6 linked regions of the Homo sapiens genome follow. The protein of the gene in region 2 purifies or fractionates together with the protein of the main gene of each other region. This does not show direct contact. Each region holds a gene or a part of one and is shown on either strand. Other genes may lie near its edges.

Region 1 (3,121 bases), on a different chromosome or scaffold from region 2:
CCAGGACTTTGCCAAACACGCATTCATGCCCCGCACCTTGCCCACTCAGCTCTTCTTTGTCTGCCTAAGTCAATTTTAACACTATCCAATACCAACCTATAGCAGCACCTCCCCAGAGTCAGGATCTGCTGTCAGGAAGCAGCAGCCCTCCCAGCCATGAGGGGCACCTAGAATTTCGTTTACAAGCAGTTGTTAAAAGAAGCCACATGTTGTGTAAATGCTTGATTTCTTCCATCTTGGGAAAAAAATGTTCCTTTACCTAACCAAAAACAGCCAGACTTTCAAGGTTTCTGCCTGGTTGGGAAAAGGACATTTTTAGCAAGTGAGGGGAAAAAATTGGCATCCTATTTCTAATCATCACCAGCTTTTAAAATAACTTCACTCATCCCAGAATTAAAATGACAGGAAGACTCTTCCATTTCAATGGTGCTTCCCAAATTTAAAATTGTTACATTCCATGAGCAGCTAAAAAGAACTCAAAAATAAAGGCAAGCATTAAATATTACGTAAGGTTTTCTTTTATTTAAAAGATCATTCACAAAATACCATATCCATAGATTTACTTTCTGTCATATAGCTGAATGTGTTAAGTGTTTGGAATTCCATTCTTACATTTAAAAGTCAACTGGATTGCCCAGCAGTTTAGATGCATGTGTTTTGTTCTTTATCTTATCCACATTGAAGATGTAAGTAGGTCATCTGAAAGCATCGGGTTTGATTACACCACATAATGCATGTCTTTCTGAAGTTAAGTGTTGGTGTTACACAAATGGTTCTTATCTCAGAAGCAGAGAAGCTGACAGGTGGAAGGAAGGAGAGAGAGTTCTGTGGATTGCTGAGGCCTTGTAACAAGACACAGTAGGAAAAGCCCAGGATGACGGCTGGTGACCAAATACTAAGCACATTCCGCTGGGTGCCCCAGGCCACCCTGGCCCTGCCATCACCTGGCGAGGGCCTCTTTCCCAGGCTCCTGCTGCCGGCCGCCCCCAAACTGCTCCCCATAGGACAGACTGGGACTTGGGTACTGAAGGATTTTTCATCTGTTCACACGCAGGCGTTCAAGCTCAAAAGCCTAACCCCTAGCACTCCCACATAACTGCTGAACCCTGCACATGGGAACAGTCCAGTGTGTCCCCAAGATGTGGCCGCAGACCTAGACAGCTGCAGTCCTCTACTGCTATCTGAAGGTTCCTGACAGCTCTGCATAGTACAATTTATCAAAGGAAATGAGTAAAGTGCCAGATTCTAGACCCATTTTGGCTCTGAACTGAAGGGGAGGTGGGAAGCACAGTATCTCATTATGTTGCCTATACTAGGAACAGATCCACACAACACACAGGCAACAGGGATGGGGGGAAACGCTGCGTCAGCGCCGCAGTCAGCCCAGTGCAGCACCAGCACCACCCCCTCCACCCCCAAAGCGCCTTGGCCCAGCAGAAAAGAAACCCGCTGGCCATTCACTGCACCCAGCCAGAGAGGCCAGCCTCCACCACGCACGGCGAAAGGAGTGAACTAGCTGGGACACACACACGTGTGAATGCATGCAAGCATTCACTGCATCTTCTCCGTGGACTCCCTACCGCTCTTCCATAGCCCCCCCTTTCAGCCTCACTGTTTCTCGTGTGAGCCTATCTGCTTGGACAGTCCACTCGGGAGGGGGTCATGGAGCCAGGACTCCCTCTAAATAGGAATGGAAAGGACCCTGCAGATATTTTTATCCTAGTTGTGAAAACAAGGTGCCTCTGATTCTCTATATCCATCACAGCTGAATACCAACAAGGTCTCTGCTGTTCCCTCTGTCAGTGACTCTGGTTTTTGTTGGAAGCCCCAGCAATACAGAACTCAACATGCAGGTCAGAAGAGAAGCACTGAGGGAATGAAAGGAAACGCCTGGAGTTGGGCCAGTGTCTAAAGTAAAGAGAAAGCAAAGGAAAAATGACGCAGCACCGCAGCCCAAACGCCCCCCCACGGCGGCCACCTCTGCTCCTCCGAGGAACCCCATGTGCTGCTGGGAAAACAAGGAGCAGGAGAAAAAGGACAGAAGGAAAATGGGGAAGCAGCGGAAGAAAGAAAAAAACGCACAAACAGGCACTAGATAGATACAGCAAAGCCCAGAATGTACTAAAAACCACTTGTTAACAGCTGACATGCACTCACAAGCTGTGTTTCCGCTGTGAGGAGGCCAATGGCAGGCGCAGGAGTGGCGGCTGCAGGACGGCTGCCCGGGGACTCACCAGGCTGTGGTCCTGCTCTAACCCCCCACGCCCCATTCCCTCCCAACCGCAGGCTCATTCTTGCTCCTTTTGAACGACTTCCTCTCTAGGCCTGGCACCCCCGAAGATAGCAGAGTTGGGATTGGCTACTTGATTGAGGGGCGTCGCGACTGTTCGAGGTTTAAGCTGGAGTCGTGGTCTCTGTGCTCTTTCCTCTGGGGGAGAAAAAGCAGAGTTTGTCAGAGTGTGGATCCCATTCCATATCCAGCAAAACGACCATGCTGATGTTGCTGTCAGCAAACCAGCCCACTTTCTAAAATTCACCTGGCCTGCTACCCCAACAGCAGATGCTCTAATGACCAAGGTGAACTTGCTATTCCAGAGAACGTGGGGATCTATGCCGACAACTCTGTGTGCCGTAGAACGCCAAGTCCCCACGGGGTGTGAACCGGCCATGATCATCCCATCAGGACAAGATGCCCTCCACTGACACATGAGCCCGTACCTTCTGTGGGTTCTCTGAAATCCATGTTGGATCCACGGAGGGGAGGGCCATCTCTGAAGCGGCTGCCCATGGGGGGGCCTGTTCGCCGGTCGCCTGGGCGACTACCTCCCCTGCCCCCTAAGAAGTCATCCCTGAAGCCTGAGGAAGAAACAGGACACTGAATTACTTTTCAAACTATCGTCTCCAAGCTGCTTATAGAATAATGTTCTGGGAATTGTTTGAGTTTCATTTTAAATTCTTTAGTTTGTCCACTATCTGAAGTCTCTCCAAAATAAAGTGTGTTAAAAGTGGGTCCAAATGCCAATGTGTGGAGTAATGACAGCGCTAACAGACTTCCCAAAGAAAAAGGAATCAAGATCTTAGGAGAGCAAACAAACGAGCTGTTTACATGCTCAGCTTGCAT
Region 2 (3,500 bases):
TAACTATTTCACCATTACATAAATTAGATGCTCTCCACATAAAATACGCATTGGATTCTAGTCTCTGCCCTGGAACTCACCAATTGTTTTGACCTTCAACAATTTACTTATAGTCTATAGGCCTGTTCCCTCATATATAATTTGAGCGGGCTCACTTGGGCCCCTACAATTCAGTTTCTACACAATTAACATGATTTACTCCAAATCAGAGTGGATTTTAGGATGAGGAACCAAAAGAGAAGACTTACAGAAGGCAGAGTTTTTCCTGAGAGTGAGAAAACCTGGAATATGGTAAGTATTTTAAGAAAGCGGGAGAAAAGAAAGTTTGTTGGCAAAAGAGTTGCTAAAATTTTGTTGTTAACATGTGGAATTCCTCTCTACCAACAATGTTGTAAGGCCAATAATCCCCACTTGCAGTCTTAACTTGTCTAGGGATAGGGGGCAATAAGAAGAGGCCTGAGACCAGTCTAGCTTGCAGAATCCTAGGACGTTTTATTAATTCATGATGCCCACTATCCTTGTGGGAGCAAGAATATGCGGCGTTTCAAGCTCCATTCAAAGAACTACATTTGACAAAGTTTTATATCAGTCCAAGAGCCCCCACCCCATCTCCCCACACAGCCTTGGAAGTCAAGAGCCTTAATCAGAAAACACATGAGAAGGCCAGGCATGGTAGCTCATGCCTGTAATCCCAGCACTTTGGGAGGCTGAGGTGCGCGGATCACCTGAGGTCAGGAGTTCGGGACCAGCCTGGCCAACATGGAAAAACCCCATCTCTACTAAAAATACAAAAATTAGCCAGGCCTAGTGGTGCATGCCTATAATCCCAGCTACTCAGGAGGCTGAAGCAAGAGAATCACTTGAACCCAGGAGGCAGAGGTTGCGGTGAGCTGAGATCGTGCCACTGCACTCCAGCCTGGGTAACAGAGCAAGACTCTGTCTCAAAAAAAAAAAAAAGAAAGAAAGAAAGAAAAAGAAAAAGAGAAAAGAAAACACATGAGAAGGTGGCTAACAGTAAAACCTTTGTTCAGCAGTTTATCTTACTACATGGTTATTTTTGTAGACTCTTGGTATCTTTTATCCTAAGACACCCACTTCTTGATTTCATGCAGCGCCACATGAACTATATATTATACATAAAGAAGAACAAAAAAGGGAATGCAGGTTATAACCATTGGCCCTTTAATTGAAGAGTCTAAAAACTAGAGGTCTGTAACAGAATACTAATCCTGCAGAACAAGGGACAGAAAAGTCAGGCGAGGCAAGCTTGTCTTCGTAACCTGGGCTCTCAATTGGGGTGCTCTCTTACATTTCAATTGAATATCTGTTTTTAAACCTCCCTTCAACAGTCAGGGTGTCTGTCTATTTTGTGGCTTCCAAAATTCTAACTGCAAAATAAATGACCATCTTATCATGTTTTCCCATGGCTATCAGGAGGATATAGCAATTTTATAGATTACTACATGGTCAAGAATCTACGCATCGGATGTATTCTTTTCTTCTTCTTTACTTGATGCATTCAAAAGCAACCACTGGATTTTTTTCAATGTAAAAAAGAAAAATAGATACCCATGCCAAAATTCATGGGTGTAAACAGCCAACAGAGCCAAACTTACAAAGAAAATGAAAGACTTGTTTCTGAACAGTGGTTTTATTGGTAAAGATATAAGACATATTGGCTCTATTAAAAACTCAGGTAATAAAGCACTAAGCTTGATTTTTGTATTGCTACAGTCTCTTTCTTCTAAGGGGAAGAAAATCTCCCCAAGAATAGGATGCTACCTGAGGAATTATGCCGAATAAAGAAAAGGAATGGATGGTCGGCAGTGAAATTTTCTTCGGGCATCAACATGCAGAAAGTTGCGATGCCTGCTGTGGCAGCTGCCGCCTCTGTTCCCTCTTCATTCACTTCCACAAATGACTTGTGGACAATTTTTGATATAAAAATATCTCTGGCTCCTGACATGCCAGACAGATCAGCCTTGCTACTGTTAAAGAGATCCTGCACACCTAGGCGGGCGAGGTCGGAGTTGAGAGTGTAACTCTCTTCCAGTTTGAACCTGGGCAAGCTGACATTAACTTCAATGAAATCGAGATTCTCAGGTTTAGTCCACTCATGCAACTTTTCCAAAGTCAACTGTTCCTCAATCTGCAATTAAAAATGAGGCGAAAGAGGAAGTGATATCAATTTTACATAAGTAAGGCAATAAAGTATTATTGAATCAATGGACCCATAATATCAGTTGCTAGTTAGTTTCCTTCATGTTTTGTGCCAAAACAGATTCCATTTGGAGCATTTTATTTCATTATGGCAATTGGTGAAATAGGGCAGAGGTGGTGTTCCAAGTCATCAAAGGTTCAAGGGATTTGTACATTGGGTCCATCATCCACTCACCCACCCATCCACCCATCCATCCACCCATTTGTCCACTCATCCATCCATCCATCCATCCATCCATCCATCCATCCATCCACCCAGCTACCCAGCAACACAGCCACCCATCCATCCATCCATTTATTCACCTATCTACCCACCCACCCATCCAACCATCTATCCACCTATTCATCATCCATCTACCCATCCACCCATCCATCCATCCATTCACCTATCCACCCACCCACCCATCCAACAATCTATCCACCTATCTATCATCCATCCACCCATTTACTCATCCACCCATCCACCCATCCATCTACCCATTCATCCATCCATCCATTCATCCAGGGTTTACTAAACCCCTACCACAATGGATTACAGTGATAGGTCATGACAGCTGCTATTACTTCCAGGTTGAGTAGTGCTAGAAGAAATTTAAAATATTTCTTCTATTTAGTCTGAATCCCACTGAAGCTGAAGTAATATCTAATAACTTTAGCTCCTAGGTAAAAATTTTAAAGGCAGATTATGCACTGGAGCTAGTTCCTCATCTGAAATGTGATGTGGACATTACTTATATCTACCTTATAGATTGTTGAGAGCATTAAATGAAATGATGTATATAAAGTGCTTGGCCCATAGTGCTACATAAATGTCAGCTATTATCATTACTATTGTTATAGCTATTGGACTGGAATAGAACCATCACTCTACTTCTTCTAATGGTGCTGATAATTCCTTTTAAGAGGCTAGAGATTTTCACTTTACAATCAGAAAAAAAACTAATGCAAAAATACAACCAAAAGAAAGGCCACATTGATTGTTATACAATGTATTAAAAGTCTGTACATGCAAATGATTAACATTAGACCCCCTTCCTGATAGCAAGGATGATGAATAGGTGGATAGGGAGGAGACGGAGAGCACAGAGCAGGCTAGAGTCCCTACATATAATGGAAACCTCATGCAAAGATCATACTAGTAAATAGGCCTAACATGTCACATGAGGCTTTTTCTGTCTTGTACCCATTGAAAATTTAATTCACTATCTATATGAATTGTGATGAGAACAAACAGTGTAATAATAGAATTTTATAGTACGTGATGAAGATATATGCTACAC
Region 3 (4,264 bases), about 130 Mb from region 2:
GTGATAAGAAAAGTTATACTTCCGTGCTATCTTCTATAATTTTTAAATGGGTAGGAGGAAATGCAGAATCTAATTTAGCTTTTATTTTTTATTTATTTATTTATTTTTTGAGACAGGGTCTCACTCCCTCACCCAGGCTGGAGTGCAGTGGCGTGATCTCAGCTCACTGCAATCTCTGCTCCACCAGCCTCAAGTGATCCTCACACTTCAGCCTCCTGAGTAGCTGGGACCACGGGCATGCACTACCATTTCTAGTTTGTTTGTGGTTTCTTGTTTTTTTTTTTTTTTTTGTATTTTTGGTAGAGCTGTGGGGGCGGGGGTCTTTTTTTTGCCCAGGCTGGTCTCTAACTCCTGAGCTCAAGCAATCCACCCACCTCAGCTTCCCAAAGTGCTGAGATGACAGGTGTGAGCCATCACACCCAGCCTAATGTAGCCTTTTTAAGAGTTTTGTTTTGTTTTTACTTTTTGGAGAACTTCTTTAAATAGGCATCAACCATCAACCTTGCACCTTGGAGCAGCTTCCCAGGGCTTAAAACAACACCTGACCAACCCAGCCAAAGCCAAAGCCAAAGTCCAGTTCACCGCCCCGAAACCACTATCACCATTCTTAGGTGGTCACCGAGGACCCCATCCCACCTTCAAATCCTCCTTCCTTCTATCCATCCCCTCCCCCATAGCAATTACAGTATCTCAATCCTTTCAGGCTAAACAGGGTATCTCCCAAAACAACAACAAGTTTATCTGATTCGTTAGCCCTTAAGGGTAAAAGCCATTGAAAACTAGCCCTACTCCCTCCTTCCTCCCTGCCCTCAAACCAGGCTCCCATCTTCTCCGGTCAATATCAGGAACGATCCCTAGAACTAATTCAGTGGTGGGAAGTTGGGTCTGGTATGGGCAGGCTACGTGACAGCCAGCAAAGGAGCTCACCTGGAGCTGTGGCCCCACACAGGGCACTTGCCGTGTGGGCAGCTGCCCACCCTGCCACCTTAGTGCCTCTTGGTTCTGCTTCAGCCTAGGCAGAGAATGATCTGATCCTCTCTTATTCTCTCAACCCACTCAAGTATGGGCCACCCACACTGCAAACACAGAATAATGAGTCTCCAGAACTGGAGATGCAGCCCCAGACAAAGGCCTAGAACTCCAGACCTTCCAAAAACTTAACTAATCCCTGGGGTTTGAGTCCTACGTGAAAATGAGAGGTTAGGACTCAGTCCTTAAGGTCCTTTCCATTCTCACAATCAAGATCCAAGATTCAGCTCAGGTCCTCAGGCCATTCAGCCTAAAGTCGGAGAATGTCCTGAGCTTGTATAATTTTGGCAATTTTGACTGACATGTGGAATCCAAGTTATGGCTGGGTATGGGGTTGGTGTTGCAGGCTGCTTTACTGCTTAATGATTACTAATACATTACAGAAAAATGGATGAAAACACTTCAAGATCTCTTGATTTAATGATTTAACATTAAGTCATTTAAAATGATGGAAAATGAAATGGTAACACAGCTAAGGCACAAGCACCAAATCTTTTTTATCTTTGGAAATGAATTCATTCAATGAAATACATACTGTGGATGCTATGTGAGAAACAGTTCCCGTCAGCTGGGAGTCTAACACTGAGTATTACAGCCATTCCTTTGATTTTTCTCCCTCCCTCATATTTGGAGATTTTAAAACAAATGAAAGGCAGCATTATTTCAGCTTAAGGCACAGGCATAAGTCACATAAGAACAAAGAAGGTTTTATTATCACATTAAGCATTGAGGAGGAAATGTGCTTACCGATAACTAATTTAGTGTTCTAGGCTATTAGGTTAGTATTTGCTTCTTGCAATCTTCTAGGCCAATATTTACTATTTATATCTTGATGGAGGTAAAAATGTTCAGCTAGTGAGAAGGTCATTAAGGAGAGAAAGAAAAAAAAAAGCCCTTGGAAAATGGAACAAAGTACACAGATAGGGAGAAAGGTACCCTTTGCGCCTCAGTGGTCTATAGAACATTTGCCCTCTCTGCCTATAAAGTGATTTAACATTAACCACATTTCACTCCAGCAGCAGAGTGCTATCTCCTGACAAAAACTCCTTTTTGAAAGCCTGGGGGAAAAAAAATCCACATACACAAAAGAATGTGAAACATATTGCCACAGGCCAGTGTCTTGGGCTTTTTGCCTAAGAGGTTTGCTTTCAGCAAAGAGAGGGGGGAAAAAAAACACTCTAACAACAACAGCTTGTACAGTACAGTGAACAGCCTCCCTGCTTTTTGGCAGACTTTCCCAGCGAACAGTTCCAGTGGCAGTGCCTTGAGCCCATTCAAGAATTCCATTTCATAGGAAAGGAAGTGTTTCAGATAGACCTATTTGATCTTTCAGCATGTGCAAATGCACCTGCTAAATAGCTAGTCTGACAGCCCATATAGCCCTCTCCCCAGTTCCTTCTTCTCTGTCTTCACCAGTAATCATATGGGTTATTTCAGACTTGGACTAGGTGAGATGAAAAGTACATAAAAATCACGCCAAACGTTGCTACTGCTGCTGCACGAGCTCAGGCTCGACGTGCAGATGGAATTCCCTTCTCCCCACGCCAACTTCCCTGTCACTTTCTTCCTGGAGCAGGTAAGAGGGTTTTGTTTTGTTTTCAGCTTCCGAAGGCTTACCTCGAGGTGGCTTCCTCCCCTGCCTTTGCATGGCTGTTCCCGACGGTCTGGTCCTTGCCGCTGGGGTGGTAGGCTGTTAGTACCACTCCCTGGGAACTGGAGAGCCAGCTCATGGTGAGAGAAGGGACATACTTTCTGCGATCCTGACACAGAGAAGGGGAAAGAAGTTCCTGTCTCGCCTGGCAACTCGCTCATTAGCATTGGCCAGCTCCTCCCCGCAGGCTGGCGATTCACACGGGGAGGGGCGGGGTCTGTCCAGGGAAGGGCTTCCTGCCTCTCCAATTAGAAGCTGCAACTCACAGCATGGTTTCAACTCTGGACAATTGCACTCTGGGCGGCTTTGGTTAAAGGAGGCGAAGGGTGGAAGCGACGGGTTGCACCCACCCCCAAGTTAGTCTGATCAGATTAAACTGCCAGAACGTATATTCAACTCATCACTGTAACTACAAGCCGTCTTACTTAGGAAACCATGAGTTGCTGCCAAGGCTTTTTTTTTTCCCTCCCCAATTCCTCTATCTTATAATTTCTGCTACTTAATGTAACATGAGTAAAGGCATTTCTTAACCCCTTCATGTTCAGCGTTAAAATTAGCCATAGTAAAAAACAACGAACCCGCGGCAAAACTCTGCAATCCAGACGACGAGAAAGGCTTGATCCTTGTGTCCGGTTAAAAATGCCCTCATAAAAATTGTGTGTCCTGGAATGTCGTCGTCTTTCACATAAAGCCAATCTCAAATATACGTCTTGTTTTAGCAAAATATTTTTCAGCACCAAAAAGGGATAGACCTACCAATGCTCTGTTAAGTGTTATTGCTGAGAACAAGAGAAGTCCCTGCCATTTGTTGAGCACCTACTATATGCCAAGCTCTCATGGACGGGGGTTTCACATGTATTATCTCATTCCATTCAATTCTCTCTCTCTCACACACACACACACACCGTACAAGATAGGTATCACTATCATCTGTGTTATACATAACACAAGGAAAGTAAGGCTGAGGGACGAGTTAAGTAACTTCACTAAGATAACACAGTTGCTAGTGCCAGAAGCTGGATTTGAACAGAATTCTAGGCTACATTCCTTTTATTTTTCACCAGTATGCTCTTCTTTGTTTTGCAGATTAAGAAACAAGATCAAAATTATCATAAACACAAAAGACAGCTCTGTTCTTTCTCCCCATCTCCCCTCCAAAAAAAAAAATCACTTTTTTGGTTTGTTTTTGAATCAGGGTCTCACTCTGTCACCCAGGCTGGAGTACAGTGGTGATTGTAACTCACTGCAGCCTCAACCTCCCAGGCTCAAGAAATCCTCCAGCCTCAGCCTCCCCAATAGCTAAGACCACAGGCATGCACTACCACGCCCAGCTAATTTTTTTATGCTTTGTGGAGAGGGAGGGTCTCACTGTGTTGCCCAGGCTGGTCTTGAACTCCTGGGCTCAAGCAATCCTCTTGGCTCAAGCTCCCAAAGTATTGAGATTACAGGCATGAGCCACCACGCCTGGCTTCTACTCTGACATACCCAGTAGTCTGAAGGTTTTTTTAGATTTTTATGATTCATTCAACTCTCTAGAATTCCTCTTGAACAAGTTTCCAATTCCATCATTACATAAACTTATTG
Region 4 (3,500 bases), on a different chromosome or scaffold from region 2:
GGTAAAGGGACCATATGAGGGTCTAAGAGGGCACCAGCATGCCGGTGGTCCCATAGAACATACCTCGTCACAGCCAGCACATCGGGGTTTCTCGCTGTCACAGTAATGTCTGCCACAGTATAGCTTCTCATTCTTCCAAAAATAAATCATGTCAACCAGGAGTTCATGGCAGGTGCTGCAGACAAAACAAGCTGGGTGCCACAGTTTATCATAGCCAGCCCTTTCGGCATAGATGGCTGGGTCACCTTCTTTCATACTCAGTTTGCAGCAATAGCAGGACTGAAAGGGAAGCCATCCAGAACAACCTAGTCATTAGAAGACTGCCATTTCTTTTCTTTCTTTCTTTTTTTTTTTTTGAGACTGAGTCTCACTCTGTCGCCCAGGCTGGAGTCCAGTGGTGCTATCTCGGCTCATTGCAAGCTCCGCCTCCTGGGTTCACGCCGTTCTCCTGCCTCAGCCTCCCGAGTAGCTGGGACTACAGGCGCCTGCCACCACGCCCGGCTAATTTTTTTGTATTTTTAGTAGAGACGGGGTTTCACCGTGTTAGCCAGGATGGTCTCAATCTCCTGACCTCGTGATTCACCCGCCTCAGCCTCCCAAAGTGCTGGGATTACAGGCGTGAGCCACTGTGCCCAGCTAAGACTGCCATTTCTTATCATTGACTTCAGTAGAAATTCAGAGAAACAACTTTGAAGAGACATAATTTCTACTGAAATTACAAATTTGTCGATGTAGATAATAACGTATTAATAATTCTGTGAAATGGAATCTCAGCTTTCTCCCGGCTATTCAAATCTACTTCATTCACCCTGTGTGTAACAGGCATTATTTCCTGAATTAAGGTCACTTATGGAAAAAGGAAAATAGTAATTTTCAGGTCAATTTTAAGTAGATTCTCTAAAACTATCACCTCAGGGCTTATTAGTGCTCTTTTTTCAGGACTAAGCCTTATTGGTTGGTGTGCTAACTGGAGCTATGAGGAATATATTACAGCAGGTTTAGTTCTTATGTCTGTTCATCTGTGTCATAATTGCCTCCTACCATCAAGTCATTAGCAAAATACTTCAATTTCTCCCTTTAGAAGAGACTTAAAAAAAAGCTTCACTATATATCCACAAAAATTAAATTTAAGTTTGAATTTTAGGCACGTTCTCACAAGCAAAACTGAATTAACCTAAGCATATATTCCTATTTATGGGCAGCAGAGATAAGCAATTAATACCAACATTATGATTAGAAACAGACTATAGAATAATAATGCTGTCTTTGATCAGCATGCCAATACCAACTACTGTCTGTACATAAAACTCACTATCCACAATTATCCTTGATAATAAATACATAGAAAATTTGGCTTTAGACAGAAGTTTCAAACACGATGACCCTCTGTGGGAAGTCTAAACTGAATCTAAATCCTATTTATTCCCCATACTTATTCCCTTTTGGAAACTCAGAGGAATAGTCCCCAAAAAAGTTCAAAGTAAGGGAAAAAAATTCTGTAAAGTATACAAATCAGGCTAACAGTGTGACCACTCTACTTACATATTGAGTTCTTTTGTGCTCAGCAGATTTGTCCTCCATGGCCCCCACTGCTGCTGGGGTGCTTCTATCCCCTCCAGGAATGTTCATTTGTTTGGGGCCTTGGGCATCCATCTCACAGGGAAGTTTGACATCTCCTACTCCCAGAGCTTCGCTCTTATATTTCTTCACAAACTGCTCCATCTCCTTCACCTCTCTGGGAGACAACTCATGGCACTTTGAAGGGTCCTGGTCATGTGCAGGGAGCTGCTTTGCCAGCTGCTTCTTCCGGTACTGTGCCCCCTCTGAGCCTGCTACTGGCTGCTTTTCCTTGGGTAGCATCTGCATGTACTGCCTGGCCTGAACCACAAGGAGGCCAATGTTAACTGGGATTGGCCATTAGGCAGTGTGATGTTTCATAACACACATCAGAAGCAAGTTACTTAAGAAAGAAGTGGGTTCTATCCAATAGCAGCAACTCACCCTCACAGTATATTAAGAAGTTAAAACTCAAAAACGGTACACTAAATAGATTTAGTTGGGTAAAAAGTAACACTTTCTCTCCATGAAATTATATATTTTTTCAGTTTGTAAGATCTGAGTTACTACTGTTTACTTAAGCTAAATAAACAAATGTACAATTGAAAGAAAACATAAACTTTTAGGCAGACATGTTTGGAATGGTCTGTAGGACCAGGAACATTTTTATTACATAAAAAATGATATCGCAAAATTCACTTTAATGATTTAACTAACCTTAAAAGACTTCCAAATGTTTCATTTGGTTGTTATAATAGTGGAAGGAGCTTGATATAAAACTGTGATCTTTTTGGTCTTATATAGTATTAATAAAGGAAATGAAAAAAACACAAAGATAATGTTGAATATTTTTTTCAGTTCTAAACTATGACAAAAATTCTCTTCTTTACCATCTTAAGATAAATCCTCTCAAGACTAAGCTAGAAGAGTTACTAGATTGATATAAAACATCTGATTTCCATCTAATTATTAAGAACGTTAGACCATTCCCTCAAAAAGGTAAACATATCTAGGGAGTTGGAAAAATTTTATGAAGTATCTAGTCTTACATTCAAAAGACTAGAACAGGAATCAGAAGTCAAAGTAATGAGAACCCCGGAAGAATAACAGATCTGGGATGTGTGAAGTTGATTAGGTCATCAAAGAAACTGCCCCAAATAAATACTCCAGGAACTTCAATAAAGAAACTCTCTGTTCCATATCATTTACCAATGCTTGATTCTGGACAGGAGGAGCCCACTCATAGGTAACTGTATTGATGGAGACATTCTTCTTGGCAGCAACTGGATTCGTCAATATCATAACATTGCGTTTATACATGGGAATTCCATCTGACTTTAGTTTTGCAATCAGAGTGGTATACTTGGTGTCTTCAAAAAGTTTTCCCACTTTTCGATCCTCTTCATTGCTCAAGAGGACATCATGCTCTTCTTGGCCACACTTGCAGTTACGACATATTTTTCTATAATTTTGAAAATAAGTAGAAAATGATTAATTGTACCTAATTGATATTTATGTTCATACATTTATAGTTCATAAAATACTTTTAGGCCTATTCTATATCATGGTATGCAAAGGCAAGTCCTTTTTTAGGAGGGAGAATAAGTATCCATATATTTAAGCAAGAAGGAAACAAAACACGACTTTGCTTGATAAGGCTTTTAAAAGCTAGGTTGTAAAAATTGAAAGAGGGACCCAATTAAACTGAAGAGCTTCTACAAAGCAAAAGAAACTGGCAACAGGACAAACAGACAACCTATAGAATGGAAGAAAATATTTGCAAATCCTGCAACTGACAAAGGTCTAATATTCAGAATCTATAAGGAACAATTCAACAAGCAAAAGACAACCCCATTAAAAAATGGGCAAAGGACATGAACAGATATTTCTCAAAAGAAGATATACATATGGCCAAAAAATATATGAAAACATGCTCAATATCA
Region 5 (3,500 bases), on a different chromosome or scaffold from region 2:
AATATACACCCAAACCCTTAAAATGTACATAACCTCTGAAGTTAGAATAGGCTGGGTGCAGTGGCTCACACCTGTAATCCCAGCACTTTGGGAGGCCGAGGTGGGTGGATCACTTGAGGTCAGGAGTTCGAGACCAGCCTGACCACCATGGAGAAACCCCGTCTCTTCTAAAAATAAAAAATTAGCCGGACGTGGTGGCGCATGCCTGTAATCTCAGCTACTTGGGAGGCTGAGGCAGGAGAATCACTTGAACCTGGGAGGCGGAGGCTGCAGTGAGCCAAGATCGCGCCACTGCACTCCAGCCTGGGCAAGAAGAGTGAAACTCCGTCTCAAAAAGAAAAAAGTTAGGATAGAAGATAATCATGCATGTAACAAGCTACAAGAATGTAGCACTTAAAAAACATTTGTAGTACTTATTGGAAATTTCGATTATTTCCCAAATTTTTGCTCTTTAAACAAAAAGAACAAAAATTTGGGAAATATTCTAAATGTCCAATAACGGAGGACTATAGCCTTTAAAAATAATAACTTTAAAACAAAACCCTATCATTCAAAATGATACTGTAAAAGAATATTTGATATTAAATGTTCACAAGGAATTATAAAAGAAAACATAGGCTAAAAAGAGCATGGTAAGTAGATAGGTATTTGTCATATGATTCTTTGTACCTATTTAAATGTTTGACCTATTTCCTGGTAATTTTTTTAAAAACAATTTTTAAGACTATATACAAAATGATGTCACTTTTTATTAAAAATGCTTGTAAGAGGTTTACATATATATGCATATAAAATTAATACTAATATTTTGCCTCCCTACCACCCAGAGATACTCAAAACATTTACAGTAGCTAAAACTAGGTGGCTGTATTACAGTTGATCGTTACTTTTTCTCTTTTTTTGTCCATCTTTTCTAAATTCATACTTCAGGTCAGTCAGTCATTGTTTTCTGGTTCTTTTGACCTATTATCCTCACAGTGTTTTTGATGCCAGAACATTTCAGAGTGCTGCACTTCTCTGTCTGCATAAATAAAACAGTAATTTTATGTCACAGAGAGTTGTCAAATGAGGGTGACATATAGTCAGTGCTTAATAAATACCTGTTGAATGAATACATACATTCAATAAAATTTGTTTTTCAGAATCCATGATAATTAAAATCAGTGAACAATGAAAATAATCAGCAACCCCAGCTATCAACCCACTGAATTTTAGTTGCTGTCAATGTAACACAATTCTAATACAATGAGATCATTTGGAATCTCCTTCAAAGTCACTTAACTGAAAATAGCTTTACATAGAAATATGCCTCTTTAAGATACAAAACATTTCTTTTGCAAATTCTATGAGTTGTTTCCAACTGTAGCCCTATATAGATGGAAATCAATAGTACCTTCATTTTGACAGATGCATCCAAAAGAGAAGCAATATTTTATTTACAGGGATATAAATATGCAATACTTAGAAATGTTCTGGCATCAAAATAATGAGTGAAAATACTCTGAAAATTATAGAGGGTGGGGGGAGGAGGGACCTACCACCACCATTAATTCCTCTCCTAAAAGACAAATGAAATCCTAGACTTTTATTTAACTTTTCCAAAGCCAGAACTGTAGCATGTTCTTGAAATGAGACAAAACTCTGCTCCTTCACTCCTCTGTCCAGGATAAATGCTACAAGTGCTGCACAGTGCTGGACAGGCAGCGCTGTGCCCACAGGTGGACGACCTCCCTTGCTTGAATTTGTCGGGCCCACTAGGGTTCATGCAGTAAAAAGCCTATTCCAGGTAAGGCCATTGTGAATTGCTCTAAACCTCTAAGCGGCAGCGAATCATTTCCTGCTATAAATCTCATCAATCTGGTCTAACCCTTTCATGGCCAGTATCAACAAGCACCCATCATAAACTCTCAAAAGCTGCAAAGAGCTTAAAGGAAAAATTGTGGGAAGCCGCTGCCAGCTGAAGAGTAGGAGGGATCTAAAAAAAACTTCTCTGCTTCTCTTAATCCCCAAATTTCTACAATAGCTGGTGGCATACAGACGAAGAGATAATCATCTCCTAAGCAGTGTTAAAAATCAAAGGGAAGGGAGAGCAGTGTTGCTTCCACCTCTACACGTGATTATAGTTATTTCTCCTGCACTCAGAGAAATCGGCTTCCTCTTTTAAGCAAGGCCAGCTGGTTTTCCAGAGGTGCTCGTTAGAATTTACTGAGCACACACCCACTACTTTGACTTGCATGCTGCACACAAAACTCACCGCTGCATTTGGGTGGGAAAGAGCTAAAAGAAGGGGGCCCTGGCTCAAGGTCTGACAGTCCTAAAAGTGTAGCCTGCAGCAACCCATTGTGGTCACACTGGCGTCTCTGTACAAACCCAGAGCTCCATGCCAGAAACTGCGAAGTCTCACAGGATTCAGAGATGGCTCTGCCTAAAAGGAGAAATTTTTCTAAAAACGACACTCGCCTGTGAGTGGATTTATTTTACAAACACCATTTATTTTACTAACACATGCTATGAAGGCTTTTCTTCTCTAATCCTGATCTACAGAAAGCTGGGTAAGAGTTAAAGGAGAAAGTTCCATGTCTTAAGTTTCTGACTCCCACAACTTCAAGAGATTGGTTTCTGTTAACCATAAAATAAAATTTAGCATTCCTAAAATTGTTTCCATATAACTTATGAATCCTTTCACAGAGAAAATAGGTCTGAAAGCCTTTAAACTGTAACTCCAGACTAAACAAAATTATCTCATTTTGATATTCAGAAAAACGGAAGGCATGGCAGTTAGACGATGCGCTGATGAAGGGCTGCTCCACAGAGCAAAGACGGCTTTCATTTAGCAACGTGCAGCTGCCGACAGGCACAGTGACACCAACACGGGATTCTTTCGCTACATCTCTCAACATGAGACTTCAAGAAAGGAGAAAAGACCTCCTTCATGTTTTCGGAGCATTAGGCTTCTGGTGCAGTTAGGAAATCACTCCACCTTAGCAAGAAATGAGCAAATGCCAAATACCTGTTTATCACACCATTTCTAAGCAATTTCTCTTTACAGCCTTTAAAATTTATCGAGAGTTTTGGTGCAAAACAGAAAAATGGTTAAGTCAGATACCAATGCCGCAAAGGCAACTGCAAGTGGAACAGGGTTGGGGTATCCTGCTAAGGAAACCCCAGAATGCAAGTTTGCTCCTCTTTGCTCACCTGCCTCTGGGCCTCAGCCAAGTTAAAGGGCAGAGTTCCCTCTTCCAGAGGAGCAATCCGTTCAATGTCTGCTAAGGTCATACGTCTGTAGGGGAAAAACAAACACAAGCAACAAATATACCAATTTATTACAATTTACATTATAAAATTTAAAAACATCCCTTTTTTCATTTCTCATATTTCAGTATAGCCTTCAGTTTGGCTTCTTTTTCTCCTGATTGCTGCCCTCCTCCTAACCTCCTTTTATTAAGCTAATTCCAAAAAAAAAAAAAAAAAAGCCAACTTACCCCCTTGGCTCATATAAA
Region 6 (2,643 bases), on a different chromosome or scaffold from region 2:
ATGCAGATACGTCCGTGCACCGGCACAAACTCGGACACGTGTAGATACACGGGCAAAACGCACTCATGTAGACAAGGACTAAAGCAGCCACCTCAGCAGGCGTGCAGTCACACACGTATACACACCACAGGTGTGTGTGTACAAACGTTGCACTTTAACTTATCTAGATTCAATTAGTGTACACGTGTATGCCACACAAAGACTTTTTTTTTTTTTTGAGATGGAGTCTTGCTCTGTCACCCAGGCTGGAGTGCAGTGGCGCAATCTCGGCTCACTGCAACCTCTCCCTCCCAGGTTCAAGCGATTCTCCTGCCTCAGCCCCGAGTAGCTGCGATTACAGGAGCCTGCCACCACGCCAAGCTAATTTTTGTATTTTTAGTAGAGACGGGGTTTCACCATATTGGCCAGGCTGGTCTTGAACCCCTGACCTCAGGTGATCCGCCCACCCTGGCCTCCCAAAGTGCTGGGATTACAGGCGTGAGCCACCGCGCCCGGCCCAGACACAGACTTATACATGGGCACACACACAGACACACAGGGACACATGCCTGTCTCCAGGCATGCACACAGACCCCCCCGCCAACCTGCAAGGTGTCCCTGTATGACATGGGTCTTGACAGTGACCACGTTTCCCCATCAGGTCCTGCACCCTGCACAGGTGGCCCCAAGCCGCTGTCACCTGCGTCTAGCCAGGACAAGCTGCCCCCACTGCCCCCACTACCGAACCAGGAAGAGAACTACGTGACCCCCATTGGAGATGGCCCAGCTGTTGACTATGAGAACCAAGATGGTGGGTGGGGAACAGAGCTGCTGAGAGCTGGGGGTTGGGGAAACAGGTTAACAGCTGATGTGACACGTTACACTTTTGTCCACGCAGTGGCTTCCTCTAGTTGGCCAGTCATCCTGAAGCCAAAGAAGTTGCCAAAGCCTCCTGCCAAGCTTCCAAAGCCACCCGTTGGACCCAAGCCAGGTTGGGGTCCCCCCCATATCCCACCCTCACCTGATGGCAGGCCAGCCTCAGCCCTCATCTGACTTTTTTTTTTTTTTTTGAGACAGTCTCACTCTGTCGCCCAGGCTGGAGTGCAGTGGCACAACCTTGGCTCACTGCAAGCTCCGCCTCCTGGGTTCACGCCATTCTCCTGCCTCAGCCTCTCCAGTAGCTGGGACTACAGGTGCCCGCCACCATGCCCAGCTAATTTTTTTTTTTGTATTTTTAGTAGAGACGGGGTTTCACCATGTTAGCCAGGATGGTCTTGATCTCCTGACCTCGTGATCCGCCCACCTCGGCCTCCCAAAGTGCTGGGATTACAGGCGTGAGCCACCGCACCCAGCTCATCTGTCTTTATTGTTGTTTTTTGTTTTGAGATGGAGTCTCACTCTGTTGCCCAGGCAGTGGCGCGATCTCAGCTCACTGCAACCTCTGTCTGCCGGGTTCAAGTGATTCTCCTGCCTCAGCCTCCCAAGTAGCTGGGATTACAGGCACCTGCCACCACGTCCATCTAATTTTTGTATTTTTAGTAGAGAAGGGGTTTCACCATGTTGCCCAGGCTGGTCTCGAACTCCTGACCTCAAGTGATCCACCCACCTCAGCCTCCCAAAGTGCTGGGATTACCGGCGTGAGCCACCACACCTGGCCTCATCTGTCTTCTCTTCCAGAGCCCAAAGTCTTTAATGGTGGCTTGGGCAGGAAGCTGCCAGTCAGTTCAGCCCAGCCTCTCTTCCCCACAGCCGGTAAGGGGTCTGCGGGGTCAGTGCGGGGCGGGCTTCCCAGGTGTGTGACCGTACAGTCACACAAGTCCCCACACTCCGAAGCGCCCTGTCTTTTAAGGTTCTGCTGTCTCTGTCTTGAAATTCTTAATGCCTTCGAGCACACTGTCCTGTTGCACGGGGCCCTGCAAATCTGTAGCTGGTCCTGGGTGGCTGTCAGGGCGGTGGGCATGGACTGGGGATCCCTGAGCCAGCTGCAGCTCCTGGTCCTGAACCCCCAGGGCTGGCAGACATGACGGCAGAGCTACAGAAGAAGCTGGAGAAGAGGCGGGCACTGGAGCACTGATTCGGACACACCAGGGACCAGCGGGCTAGTCCCAGGGCATGGCCCAGCGGCCAGATTCTTTTTCCCAGGATTAAAACTCTGACCCCAGGACCCATGTGTCTGGCTTGGCTTGGGGGATTAGGGGACGAGGGGTCCGTCAGATGTCTGCCTACGGATGGCCCCATTTACTCCCAGTGACCCTCAGCTCAGTGAAATCTACCACCATATTCTGTGAGAAAAGCCCATTTTACAGCTGGGAAGGATGAGGTCCCGGTGCCACACCCAGGCCCAAAGAACCAGCACCGCGGCCTCGCCTGGCCAGTGTCTGACCTTTATTAAGAGGTGAGGTGGGGAGAGGGCCCGCCAGGGTGCCCACTCCCTCTTGGTGACCCCCCCATCTGGAGTTAAGGCTCCAAGCAGCAAGTGACAGAGGAGGGTGCCTGGCTCCAGCAGCCTGGGCTTGGCGGCGACTCCCCCAAAAACACCCCAGCTGGGTGGGTGCCTGGGGGCCTAGGTGAGGCTGGTGTTGGAGCTGCTGGTAGCACTGCCTCGCTTTTGCAGGCAGCGCACAGCACTGGGGACCTGCAGGCCTGTCGTCACCTGGAAGCTGC

What was found.
Region 1: the proteins of SERPINB1 (region 2) and EIF4H fractionate together in Homo sapiens (co-fractionation; one large-scale study listed by BioGRID). This does not show direct contact.
Region 3: the proteins of SERPINB1 (region 2) and ARHGAP18 fractionate together in Homo sapiens (co-fractionation; one large-scale study listed by BioGRID). This does not show direct contact.
Region 4: the proteins of SERPINB1 (region 2) and TES fractionate together in Homo sapiens (co-fractionation; one large-scale study listed by BioGRID). This does not show direct contact.
Region 5: the proteins of SERPINB1 (region 2) and SLC25A13 purify together in Homo sapiens (co-immunoprecipitation; one large-scale study listed by IntAct). This does not show direct contact.
Region 6: the proteins of SERPINB1 (region 2) and STAP2 fractionate together in Homo sapiens (co-fractionation; one large-scale study listed by BioGRID). This does not show direct contact.

What each region holds. Positions count from the first base shown.
Region 1 is NC_000007.14:74,194,476-74,197,596, reverse strand, and holds the end of EIF4H (eukaryotic translation initiation factor 4H), read right to left. Parts: intron 2,857-3,121; coding exon 2,719-2,856; intron 2,429-2,718; coding exon 2,289-2,428; 3' UTR 501-2,288; downstream 1-500. UniProt on the Homo sapiens protein: Stimulates the RNA helicase activity of EIF4A in the translation initiation complex. Binds weakly mRNA.
Region 2 is NC_000006.12:2,831,864-2,835,363, forward strand, and holds the end of SERPINB1 (leukocyte elastase inhibitor), read right to left. Parts: intron 2,150-3,500; coding exon 1,745-2,149; 3' UTR 469-1,744; downstream 1-468.
Region 3 is NC_000006.12:129,707,378-129,711,641, forward strand, and holds the start of ARHGAP18 (rho GTPase-activating protein 18), read right to left. Parts: upstream 2,801-4,264; 5' UTR 2,760-2,800; coding exon 2,647-2,759; intron 1-2,646. UniProt on the Homo sapiens protein: Rho GTPase activating protein that suppresses F-actin polymerization by inhibiting Rho. Rho GTPase activating proteins act by converting Rho-type GTPases to an inactive GDP-bound state.
Region 4 is NC_000007.14:116,248,539-116,252,038, reverse strand, and holds part of TES (testin), read right to left. Parts: intron 3,020-3,500; coding exon 2,767-3,019; intron 1,879-2,766; coding exon 1,543-1,878; intron 280-1,542; coding exon 64-279; intron 1-63. UniProt on the Homo sapiens protein: Scaffold protein that may play a role in cell adhesion, cell spreading and in the reorganization of the actin cytoskeleton. Plays a role in the regulation of cell proliferation. May act as a tumor suppressor. Inhibits tumor cell growth.
Region 5 is NC_000007.14:96,186,099-96,189,598, forward strand, and holds part of SLC25A13 (electrogenic aspartate/glutamate antiporter SLC25A13, mitochondrial), read right to left. Parts: coding exon 3,483-3,500; intron 3,281-3,482; coding exon 3,196-3,280; intron 1-3,195. UniProt on the Homo sapiens protein: Mitochondrial electrogenic aspartate/glutamate antiporter that favors efflux of aspartate and entry of glutamate and proton within the mitochondria as part of the malate-aspartate shuttle.
Region 6 is NC_000019.10:4,323,543-4,326,185, reverse strand, and holds the end of STAP2 (signal-transducing adaptor protein 2), read left to right. Parts: intron 1-640; coding exon 641-790; intron 791-877; coding exon 878-970; intron 971-1,518; coding exon of another isoform or gene 1,519-1,656; coding exon 1,657-1,731; intron 1,732-1,988; coding exon 1,989-2,053; 3' UTR 2,054-2,143; downstream 2,144-2,643. Other genes in the region: FSD1 (fibronectin type III and SPRY domain-containing protein 1), read right to left, coding at 2,543-2,643. UniProt on the Homo sapiens protein: Substrate of protein kinase PTK6. May play a regulatory role in the acute-phase response in systemic inflammation and may modulate STAT3 activity.